Linked DNA regions of Homo sapiens: regions 2 and 3 are each linked to region 1. Evidence: fine-mapped expression QTL. A gene starts in region 1. Each other region holds a variant in brackets. All regions are shown on one strand. Distances are from middle to middle. Region 1 holds the start of CTTN (cortactin). Region 2 overlaps SHANK2 (SH3 and multiple ankyrin repeat domains 2). Region 3 holds the start of LOC105369373 (a long non-coding RNA gene).

Region 1 (8,173 bases):
TCCTTGCAAACGTCAGTGTACAAATCAAGATTGCACAAACGTGAAGTAATCTTGCTGTCTAGACAGAGTGAAAAATTCCTCTACACAATAACTTTTTTTTTCTTTTTCAGACAGTCTTGCTCTGTTGCCTAGGTTGGAGTGCAACAGCGCGATCTCGGCTCACTGCAACCTCTGTCTCCCAGGTTCAAGTGATTTTCCTGCCTCAGCTTCCCGAGTAGCTGGGATTACAGGCATGCGCCATCACACCCAGCTAATTTTTTGTATTTTTAGTAGAGATGGGGTTTCATTATGTTGGTCCAGGCTGATCTCCAACTCCTGGCCTCAAGTGATTTGCCAGCCTCAGCCTCTCAAAGTGCTGGGATTACAGGCACGAACCACCGCGCCTAAAAGCCCCCCACCAGCCTTTTTTTTCTTTTTTTTTTCTGAGACAGGGTCTTGCACTGTGGCCCAGGCTAGAGTGCAGAGGCACAATCTCAGCTCACTGCAACCTCTGTGTCCCAGGTTCAGGTGATCCTCCCACCTCAGCCTCCCGAGTAGCTAGGACTACAGGAATGCACCACCACACCAAGCTGATTTTTCTCTCTCTTTTTTTTTTTGTTTTTTTTTGTTTGAGACGAAGTCTCACTCTGTTGCCCAGGCTGGAGTGCAATGGTGTGATCTCAGCTCACCGCAACCTCTGCCTCCTGGGTTCAAGCGATTCTCCTGCCTCACCCTCCTGAGTAGCTGGGACTACAGGCACCTGTCACTACACCCAGCTAATTTTTCTTTTTCTTTTTTCTTTTGAGATGGAGTCTCAGTCTTTTGCCCAGGCTGGAGTGCAATAGTGTGATCTCGGCTCACTGCAACCTCCACTTCGCAGGTTCAAGCGATTCTGGTGCCTCAGCCTCCTGAGTGGCTGGGACTACAGGCATATACCACCACGCCCGGCTAATTTTTTGTATTTTTTTTTTTAGTAGAGACGGTGTTTCACTGTGTTAGCCAGGATGGTGTCAATCTCCTGACCTCGTGATCTGCCCACCTCAGCCTCCCAAAGTGCTGGGATTACAGGTGTGAGCCACCATACCCGGCCAATTTTTCTATTTTTAACAGAGATGGGGTTTCCCCATGTTGCCTAGGCTGATCTCGAAACTCCTGGGCTCAAGCAATCCACCTGCCCTTAGCCTCCCAAAGTGCTGAGATTACAGGTGTGAGCCACCGAGCCTGGCAGAAGAATGTTTTAAATGACAGGACAGAACCATCCGTCCACCATCAGCTTTCCATTAGCCTCAGCATCTATGGCAGAGCAGGAGGAGAAAGGAAACAGACACTTGCGTAGCCAAAATCACCATCACAGGCACACTCCCTACACCACACTTACTCAAGGGAAACCCCGCCCCCAACATTTACTCCGTTTACTCAAAGCAGTGCGTGAGCAGATGGGGTGGGCCTGGGCCACAGTGAAAGCCAAGCCTGCTCCTGGAGCACAGTCCCCTGCTCTTGGCTGGCCCAGGCCATGGGAATACTGCAACACAAGGCAGCAACCAGCGCTCACAGCAATTCACACTCTCAGGACACCTTTTCTGAGCACCTACTGCGTGGCACAGACTGAAGATCTGAATTGCCGATTATGTGTGCTGTCATTTTAAAAGTGTTTTAAAAACAAGTCCATCAAAATGCTACAATTAAAAGTCAGCTTTAGCTGGGCCTGCAGTCCCAGCTACTTGGGAGGCTGAGGTGGGAGGATCGCTTAAGGCCAGCAGTTCAAGGTTGCAGTGTGCTAGATGGCACCTGTGAAGAGCCTCTGCACTCCAGCCTGGGTGACAGGGTCTCGCTCTGTCACCCAGGCTGGAGTACAGTGGTGCGATCGAGCTCAATGCAGCCTCCAACTCCTGGGCTTGAGATCCTCTGCCTCAGCGCCCCAAGTAGCTAGGACAACAGGTGCAAGCCAACATGCCCAGCGAATTTCTTTTTTTGTAGACACAAGGTCTCCCTGTGTTGCCCAGGCTAGTCTGGAACTCCTGGCCTCAAACGATCCTCTCACCTTGACCTCCCAAAGTGCAGGGATTACAGGTGTGAGCCACCGCACCCCTGCCCCAGGTCAAAAGAAATTTCTTTTCAGTAAGATATAGCAGAAGGTTAGCTTCTAGTTCTAGGGGACCTAATATCAAAACAACCCTGCCTCCCCAACTTTTTATTGAGTCCCACTTAAAAGACTCTTCCTTGTTCCTTGAGTATCTGGCGAATACTTCTCTAACCAGAGGAGAAACAGGACTGACTCAGTGCTCTGGAGCCAGTGACTCACCCACACGGTCAAACACGTGAATGGAGACAGGGGCAGGCGGCCAGCCCCTCCTGCGCCACGGCCTTGGGCCCGGCCGGGCTTGAGGGCTGGATCATGCCTGAAGGACCTAGTGGGTGAAGTCCCCCCGACAGAGCCTGCGCAGCCAAGTCAACACTGAGCCCAAAGGGAGCGCATGGGATTCCAGGGAGCGCTCACCGGATGCCTCCGGAGCTTCCTTCAGCAGAAAATGAATTCCTCCCCAAGGGGCCCCAAACGTCCACAGATTCCAGCGGGAGGAAGCCCTGTCCCTTCTCACCCAAGGCCTTCCAGCTTCAGGGATCAGGCATCCCTTAGACTATCCAGGTGATGGAAACGTAACAGAAAGCCCCAAAGCACCGTTCTGGTGATTTTAAACACACCCCGAAGGAGGGACGGTTCCAAATTTAGAGCCTCACGACTAGCTGCAGCCGCGCCTCGCTGCCTCCACTGACCTGATTGCAAAACCTCCGCTCAGGTGCAGGCCGGGCGGATCCCCAGCTGCTCCGCCACGTCCCACAGCGAGCCCCTCAAAGTCGCGCACCCCAACCGCCTTGACCCCGCGGACCCCATCCCTTTTCCCTGCGCCTGGATCCCTTCCCCTGGAGCCCCAATCCCCTCCCCTCGGACCCTATACCTTTCCTCCGAGCCCCGACCCCTTCCCCTCGAACCCCAATTCCCTTCCCTCGGACCCCATCCCAGTAGCTCTGCGCCTGGACCCCTTCCCGTCAGACCCCAATCTCCTCCCCTCGGACCTCATCCCTTTCCCTCTGCACCCAGACACCTCCCTCTCAGACCCCTCGCCCTTTCCTTGAGACCCCCCACACCCACCTTCCTTGGCCCCTCGAACCCCGGCCCCCTCCGCTCAGACCCCCGAACCCCACAGGCCCAGCCCCTCTCCCTCGGGCCCTAATACCCTCCCCCTCGGAGCCCATCCCCCTCTCCTATTCCCTCGGACCCAAGACCCCTCCCAGCCTGGCCCCTCTCCTGCCCTGGAGCCCCCCGGCGCCCAGGGACCCTCCCCTCAGAGCTGATACCCCAATTTGGCCCCTTTCTAACCTTCCTCCGCGGACCCCAGCCCCAAGCCCTCCGTGCCCCCTTGCCCCCTGCCCGGCCTCCTTGGGCCCAGACCCGTCCTCGTGGCCCTCGCGGACCCCCGGCCCTCGCCCTGCCCCGCCCCAGGCCGGGAAAGCCTCGCCACTCTGCCCCGGCCCCCGAAACCGCAAGCGGAAGAGCGGTGAGACCGCTGCGGCCGCCGCTTCCTTCCCCTTTCGCGGCCAGGCGACGCCACAGGAGGGAAGAAGCAGAGCCCGGCCTGCACCCCGGGCGGACGCCGCGCTCGCTCACCGCCGCCTGGGGTCGGTCCGGCCCGGGTCGGCCCTGGATTCCGCCGCGCCAGCCGCTCCCAGGCACCAGGCTCTACTTCCGGTTCCGAGGGCGGGGGCGGGGCCGCATCCGGGTCCCCGCGCGACCCCGCCCCCTGCCCCGCCTCCTCCCGCGTCTTGGCCCGCAAGAGTCCCGGGGGTCCGCCCGCAGCTGGCTAAGCGCTAGCCCGGCCTGTGGCGAGTCTGCAGAGCTCGCCCGGAAGTAGCGTTGCGCGCGCAGAGGATGGGCGCTGAGCAGCACACAGCCCGCGGCGGGGTCTCAGGATCCGCGGCGCTGCCCGGGGCCGGGGGAAGGAAGCCAGCCGAGGAGACGCACGTGCCCTGAGTCCGGGAGCGGGGAGCCTCTTCATCTCTCCATCCTCCCTCCGCGCGCGCCCTCAGCCGTCCTCGTCCGCTCACCATGCACCTCCCCTCCAAGAAAGGGCCACATGCGTGCCAGGGACGCGAGCCCCGGCCACAGGGACATAGCAGCCTAGAAGGTGAGTCAAGCGTTAAACCACATGGGTACTCACCTGGGAAATGAGATAAATGCCAAGAAGTGAGAGTTTCATAACATCGTATTGGGGAGACGGTAGGACCTGAACCCCTGGGAGACCAGAGGTTTCTTTGGGCGATTCACATGTTAGCCAAGATGTGAAGGCCCTATAAGAGTAAACAAGGTAAGGAGGGAAGAATTTTCCAGGCAGGCCAACAGCAGGTTCCAACAGCAGGGCCAACAGAGGTCCCAAGGCAGGAACGGTCTTGCAGCAGGGGAACTGGAGGAGGCTCAGCTCAGCATGGTAGAGGGCTAGTGGTGCAGCGGAGCTGTGGTGTGAGAGGGGCCAGGTCATGCAGAGGCCGATAGAGCACAGCGAAGACCTCGGTCTTTATTCTGGGAGACACGGGAAGTCCTCGGAGGAAGTTAAGCTGATAAGAGACATCATGAAGTTTGGGCCAGGCGCAGTGGCCCACGCCTGTAATCATAACACTTTGGGAGGCTGACATGGGAGGATCGCCTAAGGCCAGGAGTTCGAGACCAGCCTGGTCAGCATAGTGAGACCCTCGCCCCCGCCCGCCATCGCTAAATAAATAAATAAGACATAATGAAGTTTGAATTGTAATGAGATCACTCTGGCTGCTGTGTGGAAGATGGATGGGAGAAGGGCCAGGTAGAGCCTAATGTAGCCAATTCGGGCAGACCGCTGGTGGCAGGTAAGATGGGGAGAAGTGGATAGATGCAAGAGGCATTTAGAAAGCTAAACTGTCAGATGTGAGGATGAATTGGAAGTGCGGGTGGCGGAAGGAAATGTCAGGTGTTGACCATTTTTTTAAAGGTAAAATCATGACCTTCATACACATATAAAATGAACACGTCAAATATTTTATTTAACTCGATAATGAATACATCATAAGTTGTTACAAATTGTTTAAAGAATTTGGCCAGATGCAGTGCCTCGCGCCTGTAATCCCAACACTTTGGGAGGCCAAGGCAGGAGGATTGCTGGAGGTCAGGAATTTGAGACCAGCCTGGGCAGCATGGCAAGACCCTGTCTCTACCAAAAAAAAAAAATTTTTTTTAAGAAAAAAATTAGCCAGGCATGGTGACGTTTACCTGTGGTCCCAGCTATTCTGGAGGCTGAGGCAAAAGGACCGCTCCGGCACGGGCAACAGAAACCCTGTGTCAAAAAAAAAAAAAACGGAAGACGAATGCTGAAATGAATTTGCAAAAACTGCTCTATCTCTAGTGCAAAGGTCAATTGCATTTAACTGGACACAGCTAATTTGCATTTTCTGTGCACAAGGATTGTTGGCCAGGCTTGTAATACCAGCACTTTGAGCGGCAAGGCCAGAGGATTGCTTGAGCCCAGGAGTTCAAGACCAGCCTGGGCAATATAGACCCCATCTCTGAAAAAAAAAATTTTTTTTTTTACATTGCTGACTGTTTTTTTTTGTTTGTTTGTTTAATCTTTAGAGACAGGGGCTGGAGTGCAGTGGTGCAATCAAGGCTCACTGCAGCCTCGATCTCCTGGGCTCAAGTGATCCTCCCACCTCAGCCTCCCAAGTAGCTGTAGCTGGAACTACAGGCACGTGCCACCACACTCAGCTAATTTTTTTTTTTTTGAGATGGAGTTCCCCTCTTGTTGCCCAGGCTGGAGTGCAATGGCGCCATCTCAGCTCACTGCAACCTCTGCCTCTCGGGTTCAAGCAATTCTCCTGCCTCAGCCTCCCGAGTAGCTGGGATTACAGGCGTGCGTCACTTTGCCTGGCTAATTTTGTATTTTCAGTAGAGACAGGGTTTCTCCATGTTGGTCAGGCTGGTCTCGAACTCCCGACCTCAGGTGATCCTCCCGCCTCGGCCTCCCAAAGTGCTGGGATTACAGGCGTGAGCCACCATGCCCGGCCTCTAATTTTTTAATATTTTTGTAGATACTGGGTCCTGCTGTGTTGCTAATGCTGGTCTCGAACTCCTGTGCTCAAGTGACCCTCCTGCACTGGGATTACATGTGTGAGCCACCACATTGCCAGGCCACATTGCTGCCTGTTTTTTAAAGGTTAATTTCTGCCTCTACAGAGGTATGAAATCATCTAGTCAAAAAAGCAGGCATAGCCGGTGGTGTCCATCTCAGAGGGAGCCCTGTGACTGTATTGATCCAGCACAAACCCCTCCTCTCAAGTCCCTCACTGTGTCACACCTTTTGCCATAAGAGGTCATAGTCATAGGTGCTGAGGATTAGGCTGTGGACATATCTTTGGGCGCCCACGGAAATGTTCTTATTTCTATTAAAATTGGAAAAATGAACTTTTAGGTTGAAGAAAATGTATTTTATTCAAGAAAACATGTAAAGAAAATATAGCAGCCAGGCGCGGTGGCTCATGCCTGTAATCCCAGCACTTTGGGAGGCCAAGGCAGGTGGATCACCTGAGGTCAGGAGTTCAAGACCAGCCTGGCCAACATGGTGAAACCCCGTCTCTAAAATTAAAGTACAAAAATTAGCTGGGCTAATTTTACAGAGAAGGAAAGACAAAGCTCACTGCAGACTTTTCAGCAGGAGGGCAGCGTTCGTGGCTTAGAAAGACCAGTCTGCTGCCGGTGAAGAGCAGGGTGCTTCAGAGTGGCTCCCAGAGAGAAAGGGGCAGCACACTCTTCCACATGCCCATTGTGCTCCCCAGGAGAATGTGTGGCAGAGACTGAGGCTGGCCACAGGAATTACACATACAGTGTAAAATTTGCAAAGCAAGAAGTATAGCTGTGCTCAAAAATAGGTCGAAGCCGGGCGCCGTGGCTCATGCCTATAATCCCGGCACTTTGGGAGGCCAAGGCAGACGGATTTCTTGAGGTTAGGAATTTGAGACCAGCCTGGCCAGCATGGTGAAGCCCCATCTCTACTAAAATTCAAAAAATAAAAACAAAAACAAAAACAAAACTGGTGGCTGGGCGTGGTTGCTCACGCCTGTAATCCCAGCACTTTGGGAGGCCGATGCAGGTGGATCACTTGAGGTCAGGAGTCCGAGACTATCCTGACCAACCTGGTGAAACCCCGTCTCTAATAAAAATACAAAAATAAGCCAGGCATGGTGGCAGGCGCCTGTAATCCCAGCTACTTGGGAGGCTGAGGCAGGATAATCGCTCAAACCCGGGAGGTGAAGGTTGCAGTGAGCTGAGATCGCGCCATTGCACTCCAGCCTGGGAGACACAGCGGGACTCTATCAAAAAAACAAAACAAAACAAAACAAAAGTGATATCTCTGTGAGCCAGAAATGAAGAGAAATGCAAAGTGCTGAGTGGGCCTGCAACTGCAAAGCTGCTGGGCCTGGGTCACCCACGCTTGTAAAAGAAGCACGCAGCCAGGGGCGCACCAGTGGTCCCAGCTACTTGGGGAGGCCGAGGTGGGAGGAATCACTTGAGCCCAGGAGTGCAAGACCAGCTGGAGCAACATGGTGTGAACCTGTCTCAAAAAAATAAAAATAAAGAAAAATTTTAAAAACCCATGCAGCCAAAGAGGGATGTCCAGACAGCCTTATGTCCAGGACCTGAGCAAACCAGTCCCTGACTTAGAGTGCAGATGGGACCTGGGGCATTTGCACCACCACGCAGGGCTGTAGGACTCAATACAACACGTGTGACGGAGATGTAGCTGTCCACCCAGCGCCCCCACCCTCCTCGGTACTAAGTGGACATGTGGGTGTCCAGCTCTACTACATTTCCCAGCTTCCCTTGGAGTTGGGAGCTGCCATGTGGCCAGGTTCTCGCCCATGGAACATGAGGGGAGGTGACATGCATGGCTTCTGAGCCTGGACCATCATTCCTCCCCGGGGCTGCCTCCTACCGTGGACCAGCTTCCTAGGCTGCTGCAACACATTATGACAGACTCAGTGCCTCAAAACAATGCAAATATATGCTCTTCAGCTCTGGAAGCCAGAGTCTGAAATCAGTTTCATGGGCTAAAGTCAAGGTGTCAGTGGGGCTTGTTCCTTTTGGAGACTCTAGGGGAGGAACCATCTGTGGCCTTTC
Region 2 (8,173 bases), 100 kb before region 1:
AAGTGGGAGGCCCAACTCCCCAAGTGCGAGGGTTCTAATTTTTCAATGAAAACTGAAATTCTAGACTTTCTATGCAAAGGTCTTATACTCTTTAAATTGTGACAGCTAAGTTAAAACTGACTGAGGCACTGTGTGGGTGGGATTTGACCCTTGGTAATCGCTGGATGGGGACCAAAGGGAACATCCTAGGATGTGTGTGGATGGTTTGAGGCCCTGTTGGCACCACCTCCCTGCCCCCAAGTGCTTGCCAGGGCAGGAAGCCATGCTGTTTACTGAGGACACCCCGCTAGAGAGGCAGGTGTCCTGCCCACGGGCACCCAGCAAGCAGCAGGGCCCCCACAGGCTCCGGACCCAATAATATGCTGATTCTGGAGGGGTGCAGGCCCACCAGGACCAGGGCTCACCGGATACCATCCCTCCATGAAGCAGGAGGGAGGGCCCTCCAAGTGGAGCTGGGACTGCAGGGAAGCTCGTCCAAAGCAACTTTGTTTGGAAGTGGCTCATGACCCCGAAAGACCTGGGCGAGACAGATTCTGGACGTCAGAGGGGCATCAGATGCCCAACAACTGATTCCAAACCTAGCTCCACCCCTGCAAGCCCTGTATGCCTCTTTGTCATCAGCTTTCAGAGAAGGCCAAGTGATGTTTCCAGGGCCCATGGGAGCCTCATTTCCTCTGAGCTCTCCTGAGCAGGTCCTGCCATTTGCTGCAGTCTGCTGAGGGCAGCAGGTCTACGAGGGGTACAGGGGATGGAATCAGGAACTGGGGAGCCCTGATTAGGAGTTGGGTGGGAACAGCAGCTTCTGCAGACTCAGATATGAGACATCAAATCTGGGCAGCCAGCCTGGCCCTGTGCAGGAGCAGCTCTGGCTGGGGCAGCATGAGTGTGTGGAGGTGCCACCAGAACGTGCACCCAGGCTGTCGGCTACAGACAAGGAAGGTGCTGGGGCCGCCAAGGTCCTTGGCCCCGCAGCCAAGCTTCCTGAGAATCCCCCATGAGTGGCTCATTCCCCGAGAGGCCTTTCTTTGGTCCTTTGCCTCCCCTGCCCAGAAAAGAGTAATGTCTGTCTCTGACACTTCTGAGGAAAAGGGCCCTCCAGCCCCTTGACCCTTCCAAGGCACAGGAACAAACTGCTTCTCCCAAAGCGGCCAAGGGCCAGCTCTGGCCAAGATCACAGAAGGACAGCATCCAGCCACCACAAATGAACCACGGGAGATTCTGGAGGATGAGGATTCTAGGGAGTGAGCCCAAGGCCGTGATGGTTAGCAGGCTGCAGTCAGAGGCCACATCCCCAGCCCCTCCCTGCCTAAGTGGCCAGGCTGTTAAAGTCCCCATCAGCCCGACGAGCCCTCAGGAGGCCGCAACTTGAGCTTGGCTTCTCCAGTGACTGGCAGCCCATCCCCGTGCCAGTCTCGTACTCTCCCCAAGCATCAGATCCAGAGAATGCCCCACAGCGGGTGGCAGGAGCAAGCAGGCAGTAATATGCACTTTCTTGGTTGGAGCCCCCTCAAGGCCCGGCACTGGGGGCCCGCCCAGAGCAGGAAAGCTGGTCCCAGCCCATCTCAAGGTGGGGCCGAGTCCTCCCCTCGCTCCCCACAGCCTTGCAAGGGATGACCCCTGGGGATCTAGTGGCCAGGCAGCTGGGGGCTCCCTACTGCCAGGTCTTCTCACCAAGGCCTCACACATTGGCCTCGCGGCTCCTGAGCCTGGGCAGCCTGCCTCCTCCATCTCAGCTTGAGACCCCAGTGTCTCGGTGCCCCCCCACGTGTGTTTGGCACCTCATACTCACAGCTGCTCGGGTCAGATGCCTCATCTCTGCATCGGGCCTCAGCACTCCCTGGCCCATAACTTCACCCTGGCATCCAAGGCCCTGCTCTCAGGCCTTGGCCTTTTCTGCGCCCCCCTGCCTACCGCTTCCTTGCCCATTCCCACTCCATGACTCCGCCCACACTGCTCTTTCCTGGTGGGTCCAGGCCTCTGTTCAGTCTCCTTTTACTTGGTTCTGCCTTCTTAGGTGGTACTCAGCCACCTGAAGTTATGTGTTCACTTCTTTGTGTGTCGGCCAAAACTCCCTGATGAGGACGCAAACTTCCCACAGATGGAGGCAGAGACAGCTGAACTGCCTGTGCCTCATGGCTTTTAGTGGTACGGGGAACAGAAACACTGGAATGAGTGAATGAATGAATGAATGAGCAACAGCCACTACCCGGGTGTGCTCATGGGAGGGGAGAGAACCCGATAACGCGTGGCTGGTGTTCGGTTGCCTGTCTGTACCAGAGCAGCGAGGGTCCTGCAAGCTGAGGTCTGCCCTCCGAGAACTCCCGGTGCTGTCTTCCTCGATCCGGCTCCTTTACTTCCTAAATCCATCTGCTTTCCTAATTACATTCTGAGAACCTCAGTGAAAGGAACAGCCCCCAGGAGTCACCTTGCAAAGACCGCTGCCGCTGTAGGTGGGCCTCTCTCCCAAGGCCCCATTAGGATAGTCCTGCTCCCAAGACTCTATCTTCAGGGCAGTGCAGGGTGACCAGCTGTCCAGTGGACCCAGGACACTGGATACTCACTGCTGAAACCGGGTGGGTCTGAGTACATGGGAATGAGCCGGTCCCACAGCAGAGACTGCAGAGCAGCTGGCACGGGGACTGCCCTGGCCCCACTGAGTCCTCCCTGGGCTCCTCGCAGCCCTGCCTGGAGGACCTCTGCAGCCGTCTCGTAGGTGACCAAAACTGGCACATCCTGGGCCTGTCAACAGTATGGGGAGCCAGGCACTGGGCCTGTCAACAGTATGGTGAGCCAGGCAGTACCTGCTTCTATCCAGCTCTTACAGGGATGTTGGATTTGTGAAAATCCACCAAGCAGCACACAGGCTTTAAGTTTTCTGTTTGTGGGTATACCAGATGTTTAGTTTTTGAAGAATCTATAGCAGGAGGATATGCGTACAGCACAGTGTGGCTGGTGAGGGGCATGACGTCTTGGCTGTTGTTTACGATCAGGGTGCTTTTCTTTGTTCGAAGGTGGCGTGTGAAGCAGCTGTAAACTTCACCTTCTGGGGCTTCCCCCTCCCTGCTGCCACCTAGAGACAGCTGCCTCTGGGCTGCGCTCCCATTCAGGAGCTGCTGGGATGAAGGTGCCAGAGGCCCCCTGTGGAGCTCAGTTCCATGGGCAGGGGTGAGGCCGGGGCCTTTTCACAGCAACATTTGAAAACCACTAAGTGTTACTCCTGCAGTAGCCAGGGTGGGCAGTGTCAGCCCAGACGCCCACCCAGTTCCAGTCTCCATCACTCGGGTTTTCCTCTGGGAGTAGCGTGGGGCTGGGAGGCAGAGGCCAAGGCCATCTGCTGCTGAGCATTGCTCAGGGAGGTGAGAATAGCAGAGGGGCCAGGGGGATGGCACCCTGAGTCCGTTCCTACTTCCGTGTCAGGTGCATTTGCCATGGTGAGGACAAA[T/C]AGGGCAGGAGGTAACCGGCTCCTAAGAGTTCCTCAACTGCAGGGCAGTGGCCATAGCATGGCAGCCTTGGGGGTCCCCAGCCTGCCACTCACCGTCCCAGGAGCACTGGGGCAGCTAGTTGTACAGACCAGCACAGGGACAGGGCCCCCACTCTTGTAAGCACCCTGCTGGGCCAGGCTTTTCTGCCTTCCCAGGCCTCTGGAGCGGGAGAGCAGGGAGGGAGGGAGTGGGAGGAAAGGGGCTGCTTCAGTGTGATGTGCATTCCCAGAATACATGAGAAGCAATTAAGCGCCACGTTTCCTCCTCCTGTGAGGATGCAAAGCCTGGCACTGCAGCCCAGCCCTGGAACTCGCCTGTCAGGCTCTTCACATGCAGTCTCTTGGTGGCCCTGAAAATTGCCCCAGGCCTGTAAAAGTAAGCACCTAAGGATGCTCAGGTTAAATAGAAATCAGCCCTTCCTCTGCAGCAGCTGTGGAGGACTCAGCAGAGAGCTGCAGTGTCAGAGGAAGGCCTCCCCCAACCTCCTGAGCCACAGTTAAGTGACCTCCACAGTCACAGCAGCATTCATTCTGGTTTCCCCAAAAGCACCTTTGCTTCCAAAAAGATGACGGTCTCACTCCCTTTGCTTCCCTGCATTTGCCCCCTTTTTAGGAGCCCACATGTCTCTGCCTTGGGTGGGTGCCAACTGTCTTCCTCTCCGCTGGCTCTCACTGATGCCATCCTCTCCGCCTTCCCACAGGTTAACAATGAGAATGTTGTCAAAGTCGGCCACAGGCAGGTGGTGAACATGATCCGGCAGGGAGGGAATCACCTGGTCCTTAAGGTGGTCACGGTGACCAGGAATCTGGACCCCGACGACACCGCCAGGAAGAAAGGTACATGCCCCACATCGCCCAGCTCCAGCCTGGGGCCCTACTGGGGGGGGGGGGTGGGGGCGGGCAGGACAGCTGGGGGGCAGTGGGCCCTCTCTCCAGCTGATCCCACACTTCTGAGAGCCCAGGCACAGGGGTGAGGCTGGAATTTACCGCCAGAGCCCACGACAATGACTTGGGGCTCACACGCTGCCGGAATCATCCATGTCCCACCAGGAGTGCCCTTTTAGTCACTAGCAGGCGTCCCTTCCGCAGGCTTCCCACTCAGTGCCCTGTCCCCTCCCTCCCCCTGCCCAGGCCCACCCATGAGGGCCTGCACTGCAGTTCAGGGATATGGCAAGATCCTCCTGAGCACCTGTCCTTTCCCATCATAAGCACACCTGCACAATCCCTGACCACCGCAGCCAAACAGCCTGAGACCCACCTGCCAGCCACAGGGCCACTGCTAGCCTTATTCCCATATCTGGAAACATGGGCTGGGGTCTCACACCCATCTCTCCTCTGCCCTCCAGCTCCCCCGCCTCCAAAGCGGGCACCGACCACAGCCCTCACCCTGCGCTCCAAGTCCATGACCTCGGAGCTGGAGGAGCTCGGTAAGTCGCACACCCGGCCCAGCCCTGTACAGTCACCATGCCGGTCCCTGAGCTGCCCTTTGCAAAGCACCAGGCTGTGCATGACCCCACGCTTGCTCGCTACCCCCCTCCTGCCCCTGTACCCAGACGTGCATCAGGAAATGCCCCTGCATGCCCCGCAGCCCCATGTGTGCACCTCCCTCGGAGCCTCGCGGGGCGTTGTTGCTAGTCCTGCCTTTCCTCTTTTCTGTTTATCTAACATTGTTTTGTTTTGAATTTTTGGGCCTCTCACTAGTGGATAAAGGTAAGCAGCCCCACTGGGTCCCCAAAGCAGCTCCCCCTGCTGTCTAGGGCACCCCCACTGACATCCACCTCAGCCCAGGCCTCGGAGGCCTGTGTGAGCTGCTCCCCACGTGGCTCAGACCAGAAGGCTCCATCCTCCGGGGATCTGTGTGTAGATAGCGTGGGCTTGGCAGAGCAGTCTGGTCTGCACAGCAGGCTTAGGGAACGCCCGGCACCTTTGTGTAAGGTCTGCAAGCAACAGAGAGAGGCTCTGGCCCTCTGACTCCATCTTGTAGGCAGGGGAAGGGCGACTAGCAGCCACGTGGGCCATGCTGGCCATGCAGGATCCTGTTTGTTCCGGGGAGTCACCATGGAGCCAGGGACACCTTTGGAAAGAGGGTGGCTCTGAAACACACAGAGATGGCATGTAGGTGGAAACGCTTGCTCCACTGGAGCACAAATTGGAGCTGGTGAAGGCAGCTTACATGGGCGCAGAAACGAGCCCCCGCCCAAGGCCCACGGTCCAGTCCAGCTGGCCTGGGGGGTTGAGAGCCAAGCCCTGGCTGGTGCTCTCACTCACAGGCCCCGTCCTCCCTGCACTCTGGCACAGGCAGCTTTCCCGAGAGGAGTCTAGCAAGTGCTAAGTGCTGCCACAGCAGTGATGTCATCCTTCCTCGGCCCAGGGCGCTGAGGCCGGCCAGGCCGCTTCTCACGAGGTTCTGGGGCTAGAGTCTGAGGATGGGCATGAGGCCTCAGTCCAAAACAGCAGCCCTGCAGTGGCGCTGCCCCACCCACCCAGAACCAGTAGTGCCCCGCGTGCCCCAGCCTCACAGGCGACGGAGGAGGTGACCAGCCTCCAGGCCCTCTCCACAGAGGCCTGTCCTGGGGCTCCCCAGAGGGACAAGCCTAGCAGCTCTCATCTTTGCAAGGGGTGCTCCTGAGAGCTCAGCTCAGTCAAGAAACAACAGAATGAGGCAGGAAAGGCCACAGGTGCACTCTAAAGGCTGGCCCCGCCACCTCTGCTCATGTCTGCTCTGAGAACTCCTCCCTACTTTGGCAGGGTGCTGGTGGGACAAGGGGTGCTGAGGAAGAAGGAAAGCCCCTTTCCACTGCCAGGCAGTAGGTTAACGAGCAGGGCAGACAGGACAGAGTTGTGCGGGCAGCCAAGGTTTGGGGAAAGCCACTCCATGGATAGCGCAGCCTGCGTTCGCAGCGTTCCAGACAGCCCCTGCCTGCCGCCCCATTGCCGGCCCAGCCTGCTCCTGAGGCGCCCTGAGCTGACAAGGCCCGAGTGTAGGCTGCGGGCGGGCGCTGCATCCTGGTGGCTCATGGCGGTCCCCTTTCTGTTTGCAAGCCTCGGTCCGGAAGAAGAAGGGTAAGGGAGGCCCAGTGTCTGTCTCAGCCCCCTGCCCATCACCCCCCTGTGGAACAGAAACATCCTTTGTGATGCCGTGAAGTCTCAAATGTGTCGCAAAGCCTTGTTGGCTTCTCCTGCTGGGTCCTGCCCGAGGAGCCCTGCCGCCCTGGAGCACATTCATCTGTCTGTTCTTTCTGCTTGGCTTCTGTCTGTGATTCCCCAGCGTGTCCTGTGTTTCTTCCCTGACCTGTGTTCACATCGTCATGACCGTGAAGCTGGCCGGACCCCTGTTTGGTCTCAGCTGGGGCTGCCTGGATGGGGGGTTGCAGATGAGCAGAGCCTCTGGCTGCATTCCTGACCCTCAGGACCCCTTTGTGGTGGGCAGGAACTGCCTCCCTTTAAGGCCCGGAAATCACCCATTCCCCAAGAGGCTGCCCTGTGCCCTGTGGGGCACTAGAAGGAGAAGGGAGCAGTGTGAGCCCTTTGGCTACACCTCCCCACCCAGGGCTGGTGTGGAGTGGGAGACTGGCAGTCACTGTGGCTGTGGGCAGCCGGACCGCAGGCCCCAGATAGACTCAGGTTCCCCCTTTCACAGCAGCAAGCACATCGGGGGGTATTGCTCGCCTGCTGCTGGACACAGCTCCCCCAACAATTAAAAGCAGCACTCCCAGCTTTTAATTAATCCCTTGGAGTTGGGAGGAGCCTAGCACCTGGCCCTAAGGCACATCTTAACTCTGTCCCAATCATGTTAGATGAGATTGGGTGAGGTGGGCACAGAACCACCACTGTCCCGACCTGTGTCATCCCAGCGGCCTCTCTGCAGCAGCCCCGGGCTTGCACCAGCATCCTACAGCTGCCCAGAAAACTCCCAGCGGGCTTTCTAGGCCCCACTGCTGCGCCGAGGATGTGGTGGACACCCGGGGTACAGAATACCCTTCTTTCTATGTCGTGCAATTACGTTTGTGTGTGAACACCCCTTCAATCCAAGGCCAAACCCCAGCTCACGGGAATGGCCCTCTATTCATCACCTAACTGAGGAAGATGCCCCACCATGGCTGCCAGGGACCCAGTTGCCAGAACAGCGTGGGACAACAGAAGTCCCTTGTCAGGGAGAACAGTTCGGGACTCAGGTGGCTGAGCCACCGTGGGCGCCTGTGGCCTGCTGGGACCTGGCCCCATCCACACCACCCTCCTCCCCCAGGGTGGCATCAGAAGATCCACCTCCCGTCTGAGCAAGAGAAACTGGCTACAAATTTGAGCTTCCAGAGCCTCAACCCCAGATATAACAGGGGGCAAGGGTGTGGGCAGGAAGACCCCAAAGGGACCAGCAGCCGTGGCCCAGCCTGGTCACACTGGGGGATCCAGCTGGGGACTGAAGACACCGAGCGTTGCTGACAGCCCCTGCCTCTAGGGCCATGAGGGCATCCCATGGCGCACATGCGAAGTGCGGGGCACATAGTGGATGCACGGCAAATGCTCCAGGCCCCTCGTGCTGCCTCCACCTGTCTCTGGGAGGACTGGCCTCGCCTCGGAAAAAGCACTCGTCACACTCCAGAAAGGCCATGTGGAACAAAAGTCAGGCCTTTACAGTTGTATTGGGTTGAAAAGTGACCCCCAAAGTTCTGTGAATGGGACCTTATTTGGAAA
Region 3 (8,173 bases), 71 kb after region 1:
CCTGGGTAAGGTTTTCTTGCTGCCAGGAGTACATGCCCACTTTCCTGGTCTTGGTTTCAATGTGCAAAACACCTCTTGTCAAAGTGTTTGCTTTTCCTAAATAACTTTTAAGAAGCTTTTTTTTTGTTTGTTTAAAGACAGAGTCTTGCTCTGTCACCCAGGCTGGAATACAGTGATACTCGTAATTACAAGAATAAGTATGGTTTACGAAACCACAGGAGACCCAATTTCTTACTACAGACTTCACTGCCTTTTTTTTTTTTTTGAGACGGAGTCTAGCTGTGTCACCCAGGCTGGAGTGCAGTGGCACAATCTCGGCTCACTGCAACCTCCGCCTCTTGGGTTCAAGCGATTCTCCTGCCTCAGCCTCCTGAGTAGCAGCTGGGATTACAGATGCGCGCCACCAAGCCCAGCTAATTTTTGTATTTTTAGTAGAGACGCAGTTTCACCATGTTGGTCAGGCTGGTCTCAAATGCCTGACCTCATGATCCACCTGCCTCGGCCTCCCAAAGTGCTGGGATTACAGGTGTGAGCCACCGCGCCTGGCCGCATTTTTTATTTTAGAGACGGGGTCTCGTTCTGTGGCCCAGGCTGGAGTCCAGTGGCACAATCATAGCACAATGAAGCCTTGAACTCCAGGGCTCAAGTCATCCTCCCTCCTTAGCCTCCTGAGTAGCTAGGGCTAAAGGCACATGCCACCATGCCCGGCTAATTTATTAATTTTCTGTAGAGACAGGCTGTTCTCACATTCCTGGGCTCAAGCGATCTTCCCACCTCAGCCTCCCGAAGTGTTAGAATGACAGGCATGAGCCACCGCATCCGACCAAGACTTCATTTGTCATACTATTCATGTATCATAGTGCTCCCACTTAGTTACAAATAGCCAATTGCCTTGAAGTTCTTTGCCACTCTCTGCTCCTTTGGTAAAAATGCTAACAAGCAATAGATTAACTTTCAATTACAACAAAAGAAAAAACTGAGGACAAAATTGGTTAAATCAAATCCTACGTAATCAAAACCTCTAAACTGAAGGAACTCCCACATGTCTTGAACATAATATTCTAAGGTCATAAAAACTTGATATTTGGACTTGATTTCCAACATGAAAGTGAGAGAAAAAGGGTCTTTAACTTCATTAATAATTAACTAAAGCCAGACAAAGGTCGATAAAATCCATTACCTGTCGATGCATAGAATCTTTATTTGCAATTTCATTTTCAAGTTTATCATTGAGGTCATGCACAGATGTGGCTTCACGCTGTGCAGCGAGGTAGCGTTTTTCAAGAGTAGTGATTCTCTCTTCCATATCTTCCTTTTGGGCCATGGCCTAAATTAGGTATTTCAGAGGGGACAAAAAAGTAGGTAATTAACGATTACACATTAAGATACTTAAGAGAGAAAAAAACTGAAGTAAATCCCAAATTTCCAATCAAATTAAAAATTAGCATCCTCAGGCCAGATACAGCAGCTCACTCCTATAATCACAGCACTTTGGGAGGCTAAGGCGGGAGGATGGCTTCAGGCAAGGAGTTCAAGACCTTGTCTCTACAAAAATATTTTATTTTGTTTTTTGAGTCAGAGTCTCCCTCTATCACCTAGGATGGAATGCTGTGGTGCAATCAAGGCTCACCACAGCCTTGACTTCCCAGGCTCAAGGGATCCTTCCACCTCAATCTTCCCAGTAGCTGGGACTACAAGCGCACACTCCTATATCCAACTAATTTTTAATTTTTTGTAGAAATAGAGGTCTTACTATATCGCCCAGGCTGGTCTTGAGTTTCCTGGGCTCAAGAGATCCTCCTTGGCCTTCCTTTGGCCTCCCAAAGTGTTAGGATTACAGGCGTGAGCCAGTGTCCCTGGCCAAAAACATTTTAAAGAAACAAAAATTAGCCACGCATGGTGGCACGCCCCTGTAGTCCCAGGTACTTGGGAGTCTGAGACAGGAGGATTGCTCGAGTCCAGCAGTTCAAGGCTGCAGTGAGCTATGATGGCGCCACTGCACTCCAGCCTGGGTAACAGAGAGAGATCCTGTCTCAAAAATAAATAAATAAATAATAATGTCCTCAAAATTAAATTGATGAAGATGTCAATTTTCTCAAATGTGAATGAAAATGTAACTACCTCAAATACCATAAATATTCACCTATACGATTAACAAAGACTTGTCTCTCTTAATACTATGTCTGGCCACTCAGTTGACCAAGCTTTCCTGTTTCTACATAATATTATAAAAATATATACACTCAAATATCTAAATATTTTTCAAGGAGGTGAAAGTGTCCTCAAAGAAGACGCAGTCTACGTCTGCCTCACGCTACAAATGGTCTCACACAGGACAGGGTGCGGCCTCTCTCAGTGGACACAGTAGTGAGATACAAGTCTCACTTTCTAGGATAAGGGTTGGATGAACTCTCATACAATTACAAGACTCAAGCATATTGACAAATGGAAACAGAAGTACCAGTTTAATTTAATTGGATGCAACTACCTGAAGTCTACAAGATGATTACTATACAGTTTCAAACACTTAAGGCTAGGACCAGAACTTTTTGCTTGAGAAATACCTGTCCTCCACCCCCAGAATTCACTATTTTCAAGTTGTTCCCTATTTATAAAATGACTAAAGTTAGCAAAGTCTAAATATTACAAGTGATAGGGGAAAAAAGCTCAACATCACCGATTAGACAAATGCCAATCAAAACCACAATGAGACAGCATCTCACACCAGTCAGAATGGCTATTGTGGAAAAGTCAATCAGTAACAGATGCTGGTGAGGTTGTGGAGAAAAAGGAATGTTTTCCTGCTCTTGGTGGGAGGGTAAATTAGTTCAACCATCGTGGAAGACAGTGTGGAGATTCCTCAAAGACCTAAAGATGGAAATACCAACCCAGAAATCCCATTACGGGGTATATACCCAAAGGAATATAAATCGTTGTATTATAAAGACACACGCACACGTATGTTCACTGCAGCACTATTCACAACAGCAAAGACAAGGAATCAACCTAAATGCCCATCAATGATAGACTCCATAAAGAAAATGTGGTACGTATACACCATGGAATACTATGCAGCCATAAAACAGAATGAGATCATGTCCTTTGCAGAGACATGGATGGAGCTGGCGGCCATTATCTTTAGCAAACACAGAAACAGAAAAACAAAATACCTCATGTTCTCACTTATAAGTGGGAGCTAACTGATGAGAACACAGGGACAGACAGAGGGGAACAACACACACTGGGGCCTATCAAAGGGTGGAGGGTGGAGGATAGGAGGAAGAAGAGGATCAGGAAAAATAACTAGGCTTGGTACCTGGGTGATGAAATAATTTGTAAAACAAACCGCCAGGACACAAGTTTACTTATGTAACAGACCTACACGTGTACCCCAAACTTAAAAGTTAAAATAAAAAATTAAAAAATAAAAGTGATAGGTCTTAAAAGAATTTCAAAATTCTCTGCATATTAATCTCTGCCACATAATCTCCTGCTGTAGCCAAAGAATAGAACCTTAGGTGACATACTACATGCAAATGTTCTTCCTGTGGTGAATTCCTACATGAAATTACTCAACGTCAAACTACCAAACTGAAAAGCAGACATTCAACGGTTGAGGCGCCTGACAAGGGACAAAGCGCAGGTTAGAAAGTGACAGGAAGGGCACCTGAGAAAGCACTCAGCCTCACTGTTTCATGATCAAATAGTTTCTCTCTTTTTTTTTTTTGAGACGGAGTCTCGCTCTGCCGCCCAGGCTGGAGTGCAGTGTCCCGATCTCGGCTTACTGAAAGCTCTGCCTCCTGGGCTCACGCCATTCTCCTGCCTCAGCCTCCCGAGTAGCTGGGACTACAGGCGCCCGCCACCACGCCTGGCTAATTTTTTTGTATTTTTTAGTAGAGACGGGGTTTCACCGTGTTAGCCAGGATGGTCTCGATCTCCTGACCTCGTGATCCGCCCGCCTAAGCCTCCCAAAGTGCTGGGATTACAGGCGTGAGCCACCA[C/T]GCCCGGCATTCATGATCAAATAGTTTCTCACAGTTATAATGGCAGAAATATTTGTCAGCAATGAGTATATTGTGACATATTTTTGCTATACGATCCTGATGACCCATGTAGAAGCAAATTCCACTCTTGATTGTTTGACCATTAATATTCAACGCCACAAATTCCTTGAAGGAGCAGGTCAGAAAATGAGAAGACCGCCAGCAACGCCCCCTCCCACAGTTAAGAGACTATACTCACATTGCCCTACGTGAGCTAGCACAGCCAGTATCAATATCTGCTTGCTAAGTATGTGTGCAACAGAAGGCAATCTGAACATAAGAACAAATTAAGACAGCCTAGAAATTGCACAGATGAAGAATCTACAAACAAGGACATTAAAGAATATTAAAGCAGCACAGGTAGGAGAGGCCAGTGTGGCGTCCACTTCATGGCCATGTCAGTCAGTGGGACTAGTTCTCTACTTTGAAGAGCTCAGGGACAGGAGATTTCACAACAAAAATGGGGAGGTAGCTTATGGCAGTTTCACAGCACTCTCTCTTTTTCAATATAACTTATACAATAATCCAAAGGTTGAAAGTAATTGGGAGAGTAAGAGACAAACAGAGAAAAAAAATCATTTAACTAAAACGTCCCAAACATACAACTTCATGACAAGACTGTAGTTTTTGTTATTGCTCACTTCACGGACATCTCGTTGCAATTTTGTGTTCATTTCTTCAGATTTGATGAGATCTTTTCTAGCCGTGTCCAGATCCTCTTCCAGTTCTGTCACATGACTGGAAAGGGAAGCCAGGCGTTCTTTCATTTGGCTCTGTTCCCTTGACTGCTTACTTATGATTTCTTGGAGCTCAATTACTTTAGCAAGGTCTTCCTCGTGGCTTAAAGAACCATCAGAAGATCTCTGATAGGGGGAAAAAAAAATCCTTAAATACCCTTGTTTGGTGAGCTATAAAATAAAAATACTTCCAGGAAATAGCTAAAATCAAAACTGACTTATGCAATCTGTTGGATTACACAACTTTCATGACCACTTCAGCTCTAAGCCGGTACTTTAGCAACTGTTTTCCACATAACCCGACACATACTGTGAACAAATGAAATCAAACAGAATAAAGACAAAGCCTACAGACTTGCCTTTCCACTCGTGCTTGGTGTATTTTCTTGTTCATGGTTTATGTCCAGCACTCCATCTGTTAGAGTTTTTTTCTGATTATTCTGTTCTTTAAGAATCATTAGCTGAAAGCAAAAAATTGAATATGAGTGTAAAATACCTTACATAAGAGAAATAAGTAAAGATAGCAAAACTCCTTTTGGAAAAACACAACTAAAAACTGCTTAACATAGTATAAAAGAGAAAGCATATGGCAATGCTACCCAATCCGAAAATAACCAGATCATTGAAGATGGAATTTATTATCCACTGGCCAGACGAGTCCTTAGGTAACCATCATTTTGTAGTCCTTAAAATGACTCAGATAGGCTGGTCCTCAATTGGGAAGATAAGTAACATGTGATATGTACAACTACAGTCCTTATACTTCTTTTACTTTTTTTTTTTTTTTTTGGAGACAGAGTCTTGCTCTGTCACCCAGGCTGGAGTGCAATGGTGCAATCTCAGCTCATTGCAACCTCCACCTCCTGGGCTCAAGCAATTCTCATGTCTCAGCCTCCCGAGCAGCTGGGACTAAAGGAACATGCCACAACTCCTGGCTAATTTTTGTATTTTTAGTAGAAATGGGGTTTCACCATGTTGGTCAGGCTGGTCTTGGAACTCCTGACCTCAGGTGATCCGCCCGCCTCGGTCTCCCAAAGTGCTGGGATGACAGGTGTGAGCCACCACGTCTGGCCTTATGCTGCTTTTAATAATTAAAGGATAAAAATAACCCCCCCCCAATTCAACTCATGATGAAGTCTCAAGCTTACCTCTTTGTGTGTGGCACCTAATTCCTCTTCTAACAAACTACATCTTTCAAGTGCTACTCGTAATCGCTCTCTCACCTGAAAATAAAAGGGGTTGAGTTTGTGTGTGTGTGTGTATACTGTTTATTTTATTCTTAATATATAGTTAAGTGTAATATATACACTTAATGTATATATTAGTGTAATATAACATAATAAAATACCATTAATGTCTGTCATTGATCTTACTGTCAAGAAAACTTGTTAATGGCTCTAAATTAAGTTTCAGAAAAATAAATCTTCCCCCGAAATATCAGGTTGTTGCAAAAGTAATTGCAGGTTTTGCCCACAATTACTTTTGCAACAACCTAATACTACCCAATTTGTAACAGCAAATCAATATACATTAGTAATTTTAAGACATTTAAGCCAATTAGTACTTTTTAAACCTACAAAACCCTGTCTTCTTAGAGAAGTTATTTCCAAGAATTCAAGAAGCTTCAAAAAACAAAAGTTACACCAACACTTGTGAAGCTGGCCTAATACACAGCATGTGCACAAACCAAGACTTATGTGGCTGATGGCACCTTTTCATCCAGAGCTTTGTGGTGTTCAAATAAGGACTTCAGTGCTTTCAGCACTTCCACTTCGCTGGACACGCCTGCTGGAGACTGCGCTTGTCTCTTCACCACGGTCATCCTAAGAGACCGCTCATGCCTGGAGACAAGGCATTCCAAATGCTCTAACAGCAGCTGAAATAAAAGGCCAAAATAAAGACTTGTTAAACAGCATTTTTAATTTCATGATTGAATCTGGGGCAAATAACTCCTTTACAGTCTCATACTAAAATGAAGTCCCTTCAATTCCGCAGAAAAACAAATTCCTCTCAATTGTATTAAAATATCATAAATTCTCATCACAAATTTCAAGCCATTAATGTGTGATCATGCTGACTAATCACAGTCTGCTCAGTGGGAAAAGGTATGAAAAGTATTTCAGGCCAGACAGAGTGGGTCGTCCTTTCGTTTTGACACACCGCCCCTCCTCCTGACAGTGGCTCCAGGGGCAGGCAGTGAACAGAAAGGTCACACTCACCCTGGTGTTATTCCTTTCTGCTTTCAGTTCAGCAATTTCTTCTTCCCTTTCAAGGAGCTGTTCCCTGCATACATTGAGTTCTTTAGTAAGTGCTGCGAACTCCTAGAAAATCACAAAACAAAATTAAATAAATAAGAAAGACCCCCTAAAGAAAGCCTTTCATCAAGGCTCCACAGTCTTCACACAAAGGCAACCTCATTACAAGTTATGGGGAAGGGATCTCAGTGATCCTCCAGAGAAAGAGGGCATCAATGGACCACACAGATTCCCTAACAAATCACAACACTGACAGACCATCTGACTTCCCTCTATCCCTGCACCCTGGGACAAGGACAGCAGGGAAAGAAGGGGAATCCAAGTCCACCTTCTCAGCAGCCAGAGAAGTCCAAAACATTTTCCTGAACAGGATCCTGACATGAACTGAATGAAGACATTTTAAATGACTCACAGACATGTGATCTAGAGTTGCTGGAGAGAGAGGAAAGATGGCCTAGAAGGCCACCACCCCTGTCCTAGCCTCCTTTTCTTCCTTTTTCTTTCTGAGACAGGGTCTCATTGTGTCACCCAGGCTAGAGTGCAATGGTGTGACCATGGCTCACTGCAGTTTTGACCTCCAGAGCTCAAGTGACCCTCCCAAGTAGCTGAGACCACAGGCTTGAGCCACCGTGCCCAGCCTCTCTTCTAAAGTAATATTTCTTCTGCAAGAATCCCTACTGTGGGTAATCAACTTCTAGCATGACAGCACAAGAAGCTCCACTGACCTGCTTGCTCCCAAGGAAAACAGGTGAACATTGTAAGAAAACAACTGTTCTGAGACTCTGGAGATCGTTCTAAGGGTTCACAGCAAACAACTGAAAATTCAGTAAGAAAGGCCAGAGTCTGTTGTATTTGAACCAAGACTGCTCCCTGCCTCCCCTTTCCAGGTCAGTGAGGCAGCGACTCTGTTCCAGACTGCTGCAGCTGATAATGTAGTGCCCTCTCCCCCAGTTCCACCCCACCCCAGCTACGTGGTGCTGATGCTGCATCCTGGCTAGTGGAGTCATGGGCAAAGTGGGCCTTCCTACCTCTGTCCAGCCTCCATTCTGGAATGGAGGCTCAACTTTGAGTGTGGCAGGCTGAGAATACTGGGGGTCCTGATCAGCTGTGCCCTGGCTCTGTAAGACGGTAGCTGCAGGGC

Evidence for each region. PIP is the estimated chance that this variant, and not a neighbour inherited with it, causes the effect. A credible set is the group of variants that fine-mapping cannot tell apart.
Region 2: its variant is the best candidate, but not a certain one, in a credible set for the expression of CTTN in whole blood (INTERVAL, PIP 0.77).
Region 3: its variant is the best candidate, but not a certain one, in a credible set for the expression of CTTN in lung (TOPMed, PIP 0.70).

What each region holds. Positions count from the first base shown.
Region 1 is chr11:70,394,085-70,402,257 of GRCh38, reverse strand. CTTN (cortactin) reads right to left here and starts at 3,729. Exons shown (of 18, transcript NM_005231.4): 1 at 3,644-3,729. CTTN-DT (CTTN divergent transcript) reads left to right here and starts at 3,796. Exons shown (of 3, transcript NR_186321.1): 1 at 3,796-4,160. RefSeq lists enhancers at 1,221-1,515, 4,364-4,433 and silencers at 2,803-2,872, 3,454-3,963, 4,064-4,113, 5,211-5,399.
Region 2 is chr11:70,498,941-70,507,113 of GRCh38, reverse strand. It overlaps SHANK2 (SH3 and multiple ankyrin repeat domains 2), which reads left to right. Exons shown (of 26, transcript NM_012309.5): 18 at 4,183-4,318; 19 at 4,828-4,908; 20 at 5,183-5,191; 21 at 6,524-6,544. Among named protein-coding and RNA genes, the nearest start is that of CTTN, 100 kb to the right of the region's middle. RefSeq lists an enhancer at 1,113-1,612 and a silencer at 6,279-6,438. The variant T/C (reference allele first, on the strand shown) is at 3,443.
Region 3 is chr11:70,323,327-70,331,499 of GRCh38, reverse strand. It overlaps PPFIA1 (PPFI scaffold protein A1), which reads right to left. Exons shown (of 28, transcript NM_003626.5): 3 at 6,997-7,098; 4 at 6,489-6,653; 5 at 5,926-6,000; 6 at 5,137-5,238; 7 at 4,682-4,903; 8 at 1,181-1,327. It overlaps LOC105369373 (a long non-coding RNA gene), which reads left to right and starts at 4,246. Exons shown (of 2, transcript NR_188532.1): 1 at 4,246-4,400; 2 at 6,373-6,692. RefSeq lists a silencer at 1,992-2,128. The variant C/T (reference allele first, on the strand shown) is at 4,002.